Homo sapiens: one gene and its partner. The protein of the gene in region 1 interacts with the protein of each later gene in a pairwise test. Each region holds a gene or a part of one and is shown on either strand. Other genes may lie near its edges.

The links.
Region 2: the proteins of CEP83 (region 1) and EHHADH interact in binary tests that used the Homo sapiens proteins (3 or more experiments, as listed by UniProt).

The regions. Positions count from the first base shown.
Region 1 is NC_000012.12:94,372,827-94,376,658, reverse strand, and holds part of CEP83 (centrosomal protein of 83 kDa), read left to right. Parts: intron 1-641; coding exon 642-773; intron 774-3,832. UniProt on the Homo sapiens protein: Component of the distal appendage region of the centriole involved in the initiation of primary cilium assembly.
Region 2 is NC_000003.12:185,243,983-185,247,814, forward strand, and holds part of EHHADH (peroxisomal bifunctional enzyme), read right to left. Parts: intron 1-3,832. UniProt on the Homo sapiens protein: Peroxisomal trifunctional enzyme possessing 2-enoyl-CoA hydratase, 3-hydroxyacyl-CoA dehydrogenase, and delta 3, delta 2-enoyl-CoA isomerase activities. Catalyzes two of the four reactions of the long chain fatty acids peroxisomal beta-oxidation pathway.

The DNA of each region.
Region 1 (3,832 bases):
GTTTTTTCAAAAAAGATTTTAGTTTCCCTCCCCTCATGAAAGAGTACTATCGATATTACCATCCAGAAACTTTTTTGACAACCTGCAGACTTCATTAACAATCTTAATTGTGTCATGAGATCAAGAGCCTCTTTGCTCGTACTTAAAAAGTCTGCAGATGAGCTGAGGATTTTGAAATCATATCTTTCCCTGTTTCTTTTTTTAAAATCATTGATTTTAGATTTTCAATTTTTACTTGTTACTATCAATGAGCCCTGTCTTCTAGTTTCTAATATGCTTTTTCTTATCTGTTATAGACTGGAAACTTCCAAAATGTTTGAAATAAGTCAGTGTTAAGAGTAAATAGACATCAAATGAATGCCTTAGGTACTTTCTGTCGTGAGAGAAGTGTATAAACTTTATTTTATTGATGGTCATTCATATGTTGTTTGTCTAGATGCCTTTGTTGCATATTTCCTGGAACACTATCTTTCGTTTGAATTCTGCCAATTAGTTTGAGAAAATTTTTGTTACATTGGTATATGTTAAGTTGAGGTTTTGAATAATTTTAGTATAATTATAAATGTATTTTAAATAGTGCTTATTTGATTTTGAAATACTTGAAAAATGATGAATTTTAAACTATTTTGTTTGTATGAAAGGCTGAAAAACAATCAGCTAATTTACGGGCAGAACGTTTGGAAAAAGAGCTACAATCAAGCAGTGAACAAAATACCTTTTTAATTAATAAATTGCATAAAGCTGAACGAGAAATAAATACATTGTCCAGTAAAGTAAGTTGTTTTATGTTTCTGTTTCATTCTTTAGAATGTTTGTTAGTATATAATGATAAATTTTATTTTTAATAATTGATTTCTTTATACTGAAATGTTTTATTATATCATTCTGCCTTCTAAGAAATAAATACATTGATCAGTAGAGTATGTTATCTTATGCCTCTATTTCATTCTTTAGAATGCTTGATACTGTACAGTGACAAATTTTGTGTTTAGTTCTCTGTATTGAAATATTTTTAATCCTTTATCATTCTACCTTCCAAATACATGCAGAATCTGATCAATTCTTATGACATCCACTGTGACTATTCCAGTCCAAGCCATGATTTTTCTAGGCTCCATTTCTGTGCTAGGTTGCTAACTGGTCTTTCTGCTTTCTACCCATTCAGAGCTCTGTATGATCTGGATCCTGCAGTCTTTTCACAGCCATGACCTGTATTTTTCCTCCTGTTCACTTTGCTCCCTTTGGCCTTCTCACTCTTTGAGCAAACTCACATCTTGCTCAGGGTTTCTGCACTTGTCTGAGTTTGGCTCAGTCTTCCCTCACGTATCCACATAACTTGCTTCTTCACCACCTAGATGTTGCCTAACCAGGGAGGCTTTCCTTGTCTTCACATTGTAAAACAGCATCTTCCTTCTTCCTCTGTCTTTCTCTCTGTCTTCCTTACCTGCTTCATAGCTCTTAATACTATCTGATATAGTTATTTGGTTTTTATTTTTTGGTCTCTCCTTTTCTTTCCCACCACCTTCCCCTCAACCCAATGTAAGCTCCAAGAGAGCAGGGACATTGTTTTCATCACTACTGCTTTTCCAGCTTCTAGAATGGTGCCGGCACATAGTAGGTACTCAAATATTTCTTCAATGAATAAATTAGTAGTAGCAGCATGATCTACATTTATATTCTCCTTAACAGACTGGATTCAAATTCTGATTTTTTCATTACTAAAAAAAGCTGTGTGACCTTGGGCAGTTCACTGTCTCTCTGAAACTTAAGTGCCTTTGTCTATGCAATGGGACTAATACCTACATTACAGAGTTGTGGCAAAAATTAAATGTAGCTGATGATGAAAATGATAATAGCAGTGATTATACACTGGTGATATCCTTAAATAAGAAAATATTGTAACATAAAGAATACAGAATTTTTAGTCCATTGACTAGTCTGTGTCTCACTGTCTCAATAACTATGTGTAACCTAAGGCAAGTTACCTAATATCATTAGGATCCAATTTCCTTATATCTGTAAGAACCCTTCCAGCCTACTAAGACTGTGTAAGAACTACTAGGAAATAATTTGATTGCCTCCTGATTAACTGTAAGTAGATTATATATTCAACAGATACACATTGAAAGCTTATAACTATAGAGTATACAAAAAAATAGATACAAAACACAAGTAAATTCAGGATATGGGGAGTTTCCATGCTTTTCTTCCAATTCCAGTATAAATTATTTTCAATTTTGTGAAATAATATTGAGTACGTAGTATTTGCAGCACATTGTTCTTGACCTGAGTAGCCAGACTACACTGCTGGAATAATTGGAACCACAGATGTCGCAATAGGACATGGGATGTGCTGGCTTCTGCTGTGGCTTCTCTCTTGGGGGGGCCACCAAGTATAATACTTTTCATGCAGTACATTTTACCTGAGCTCCCTAGCTCACCTGTGTGCTGACCCTGATTTTTCTTCTTTTTTTCCATATATATATACTCTTCCCTATTGCTCTTTCCTCTTAGAGTTAGAGCCTAGGTGATTTCTCCTACTCCGCTGAAGAAAGAACAGCAATCTAGTATAGTATTTATTTCTCTGTGCTTGTTTATTAATACACATTGCTAAGAGTTGCCTGTCTTTTTAAAGGCACACTTGCCTTATTTTGCATATAAATGGAGTATTAAATACCATCCTTCAACTTTAAACAAACCAAGTTTCATTTGAAGTCTTGTATGTAAAGATTCCATTGGAAGGGTAGATTTTAAAATAATATTTCAAACATGACTGCCACAGTTTTCTTTGCAACTTGAAGTTTTCATCAACATTTTGCAATTCTAGCAAATGGTTGTTTGCAGTGCAAAGGAACACCTGGGGTGTGTTTGTCTTAGTTACTCAAATTCATAAATGTTTGTCAGATTTTAGAACAAAGTTATGTCAGTGTGAGTATCAGTGTCTTGGATTAAAAGGTATTACCAAAGATGGCCTGAAAATGATGACCTTAAAGAGATTTCACATTCAGTGAGGTAAATTCTTCTAGTTCCCTCATAAGGTTTTTCATTTTCAGAATGCCAATAAAAGGTAGTTTTAAGAAAGCCACCCAACAGAGTTGTCCTTATTTACCTAAATTAATTGGGTAATTACATCTCAGAACTTTGAAAAAGATCAAGATTTAAGTACCATCTCTTTGGAATCTGTATCCAGAGCTTCTTAGGTAATACATATTGTCAATTATATTTCCATTTCTTGCTTATTTATGCTGTGCTCTTGTGTGTCTTTCTGTGAGTATGTGTACTTTAACAGATACTGACCCCCTGTAAAATGCCCAGTTTTGCCAGTTTTGACATTTATTAAAGTTTTGTTAGTAATATCTGAATACTTCCATTGTGTCAAAACATAAAGCAAATTCACAACATAAAGGCCAGAATCTATATGGCAAACATTCTGTGAAGAACAGGGTGACTTGGTCCAGTGGAGCTTTAGGAGACCATGAATTGCTTGAAATTTTATGCAACATTTTAACATGAGCATTTTATTTAAAAAAAAAATCCCTAATTTTCCTAGGATTTGGGACTTGATCACAAAGAAGATTAAGAACCAAGGATCTAGGGGCAGAAAGAAACTTTACTGTAACATTTGGAATTTGGTTCAGATTACTCATAGAAAAGTGCTATTATTTGTCATTACTGGGTAATACATTTTCATACGTTAAGTAAAATTCCTTTTAGTATATTTTTAGGAAATTAACAGTGTTCATATAAGTGATGCATCAGTGATGTTAGGATAATAGAAATAAGGCAATAAAGAAAAACTTTAGATCCATAAATGAGTACATTTGAATGCAGA
Region 2 (3,832 bases), on another chromosome or scaffold:
ATCTCTTTTATTAGGTTGAGTAGTATTTGTTTTATAAATCTGAGTTGTCCATTTTGGGATGCATATATATTTAAGACAGCTATATCTTCTCCTTGTATTGAACCCTTTATTATTATATAATACATTCTTTGTCTTTTTACTGTTGTTGATTTAAAATCTGCTTTATCTGATGTAAATATAGCTACTACTGCTCATTTTTGTTTTGTGTTTGCACAGTGTATCTTTTTCCACTCCATTGAGTTTGTGGGTGTTTTTACCAAAGGGTGTCACTTGTGGGCAGAAAACGATCAGGTTTTGTTTTTTAATCCAATTTGCCTGTCTATATGTTTAAGTGGAGGATTTAGGCCATTTATGTTCAGGGTTAATATTGATATATGAGGGTTTGTTTCCGTCATAATATTGTTACCTAGTTGCTTTGTTGTCTCAATTTACACTACGATTTTTATATCTACATTTATAAATGAAATTAGCCTGTAATTTTTCTTTTCCATACTGTCCTTGTCAGGTGTTAGTATCAAGGGTATGCTGCCTCAAAAAATGAGTTGGGAAGTGTACTGAGTTGAATAGTGTTTACCCAGAAGCTGTGAGTGTGACATTTGGAAAGAAGGTCTTCGCAGATGTTATCAAATTAAGATGAGGTCATGCTGAGTTAGGGTGGGCCTATAGAAGATCAGGAAAATTTAGACATGGAGGAAAGAAAGCCATGTGATTAAAGTGAGACTGGAGTGATGCATCCATAGGCCAAGGATTGCTAGAAACCATAAGAAGCTAGAAGAGGCAAGGAAGGATTCTTCCCTAAAGAAAACAGAAGAAGAATGACCCTGCTGATATCTTGATTACAAACTTCTATCCTCCAGAGCAATGAGAGAATAGATTTCTGTTGTTTTAAGCCACTTGGTTTGTGGCAATTTGTTATGGTGCTCTAAGAAACTAATAGAGAAAGTGGCCCCACTTTTTTGATTCTCTGAAATGTTTATGTAAAATTGGAATATTTTCCTTGACTTTACAGTAGACCTTGCCAGTGGAGTCTTCAGGGTCAAGTATTTACTTGGTGAGATTTCTGATTACTGATTGAATTTCTTTAATGATTACAGAACTATTTGGGTTTTCTATTTCTTCTTGAGTTAATTTTGAGAAGCTATTTTTTTTACATGTTCATAATATTTTCATTATCTTTCTTTTTTCACTGTTACAATAACTTTAATTTATCTTGTATTTTACAGAAGTCTATGAACGATTTTAAAAAAGCACCTCTTTACCCCATATCATGTTTCTCTGACAGTTGTTAAAGTAGTCTATACATATGTCAACAGCTTGAGCATCAGCATCTTGCAAGGATTTCACACCAACCAGCCACTAGCCAAAGAACTTGGCAGCTTTTTTATCTTGCTTTTAATACAATGGTATATCCACTCTGATGGCAAACTGGTTTAGCCACATATCCACAACACGCTTTGAAAAATCAGTGATTAGCAAATTAGTTAGCTTTGGCACAGGGCTGTGCTCGCTTGCCCATGACAGTCTGGAAGCCAGTTTTGATACTGGCAACAGAACATCTAGAATGACAAGTTTCACACTGTAGGAAATAAGAGTTGCATGTCCTTCTGCAGGATTGTGTCCAGTGATCAGCATGTGTGACAAGTGACATACTCCTTGATAAATCTTAAGACATTTTCTATCTGTTTTTGTTGGAATCTTCCTTTACAAGTTGGTTATTACCATCTATAGAACCACTTGTACCCAATTCAACCAACAAAAATGCAAGTGTGCTGACAATATAATAGTTTACAGATATCTGTAAAGTTGACAGAAGAAGTTTTCTTGGTTCCTACTCAGACGACCTGTGGAGGTTGCATAACGAATTTCTTTTTCTCCCCAGCAACCATATCTGGATTCTTTTCCCTCATGATGTTGAACACACAATTCAGCAGCTCCTCTTATGTGTAGTCTCCTTCTGAGCCTGCCCAAGCAGGGCCTGTCTGATTACTGAATGAGATACCATCATCTTTTTTGCTATCTTCATCTTCTAGAGCTTCATCTTTCTCTAGTAGTTCATCCTCATCTGGGAACTTGACATTCTTCTTTTTCTTCTTTTTATTCCAAGCATAATGTCAAGGTCATCCTCTGGTTCAGCTGGTTCTTGAACATCACTTTCAATCTTAAGATCCTTTACAACTTCTTCAGCTTCATCAATATCAAATATCTTTTTTGTTTTTTTTTCTTTTTCTTTTGATTAAAGAAGTTCAAGTCATCTAGATCATCAGAAGCATCGTTTTTCCTACTGTCCTCATTGTCAGCTTCCAAATCTTTGTCCTCAGTTGGCTCTGGCTCCAGACTTTTGTTTCTGAGGGCTGCGTTTCCTGTTTGAGTATCCCCTTCCTCATCTAACATAAAAGGCTTCTTCTTCTTCTTTTCTTCTTGCTCACAGTAGGATCAAAAATCATCTCATCTCCAGATATGGATGCGATTCCAGTGGGCTCCGCATGGATGGGAAGTCAGACAGGTCAGCCCCCAGGCCCCGTGGCAGCGCTGCTCCTGCTGATACCTCTCCCACCACCGCACTAGGCTCTTGCATCAGCCAAAGGGCCATTATCTTTCTTAAAGGCTACAGTATCTGCAATGATATCCCTTTCATCATTCTTTATATGCATTGCTTGGTGCCTTCTCTTCTCCTTCAATCTCTCCAGAGTTTGTCAATTGTATTAGTCTCAAAAAACTAACATTGTTGTTCCTCTTGATTCAAATGTTTTCTATTTCATTAATTTCTCCTCTTTATTATTTCCTTTCTTCTACTTGATTAGGGTGTATTTTACGGTTAGTTTGTCAGTTCCTTTACATAAATACTTAACTCATTATATTTCAGCCATTTTTCTTTTCTAATATATATTTTTAAAGCTATAAATTTTCTGATAAGTTTTACTTTAGCTGCATCCCTCAAGTTTTATATTATGTTTTCATTGCCATTCAGTTCCAAATTTTTTCTAAATTCCATTATTTCTGTTTTTACTCAGAGGATATTGGAAATTAACTTCCAAACATATGAGAATTACTAGTTATATTTTTGTTATTGATTTCTAGCTTAATTGCATTGTTGTCAGATAATGTATTCTTAATGAAATTTATTTAGATAAGATTTTATAATTCAGTATCTGGTCAATTTTTGTAAATGTTCCAGATGTATTTCAGAAGAATGTATATTCTCCCATTTTGGGGTGCATTGTTCTATGTAAATGTATTAAGTCAAGTTTCATAATCCCTAATACTTTTTTAGAAGAATAATTTTTTCTGCCTCCAAACTCTAATTACATTCTCTCATCTACCTTCTTTCTTACAAAGAAATATCAAGTTCTTTATCATTCTGAGCACTCTTCCCATGCATCATCGTCATCATCTTGGGTGACAAACCTTAAATTTCCAAACAGTGAGTAAGCCATTTAATAACTGGTTAAGGTTTGGGACATTATATTAATCTCTCCCAGGCTCAAAATCTCTTCTTACCTGTAAATGAGGATTGTAGGACTAACTGAGAATTAACATATAACATGTTTAAAAATACTATTATTTTTATTATTATTATTTAATAAATAACCTACATGGTACTGGCATATAACAGGCAAGATAAATGGTAATATTATAATGATTCACATTTTTATATTTATTTATTGCCATGATTCTAACATCTGTGTCTTTTCAGACTACCATTAACACATATTAAATTTCTCTGGCTACAGTAAGGTTGAATAGGCCCCCATATCCATGTGACTTTTGTCAAAGGGTATAATGTATGAATATTAAGGAAAAGACGCCATATATGCCATTGAATAAATCACCA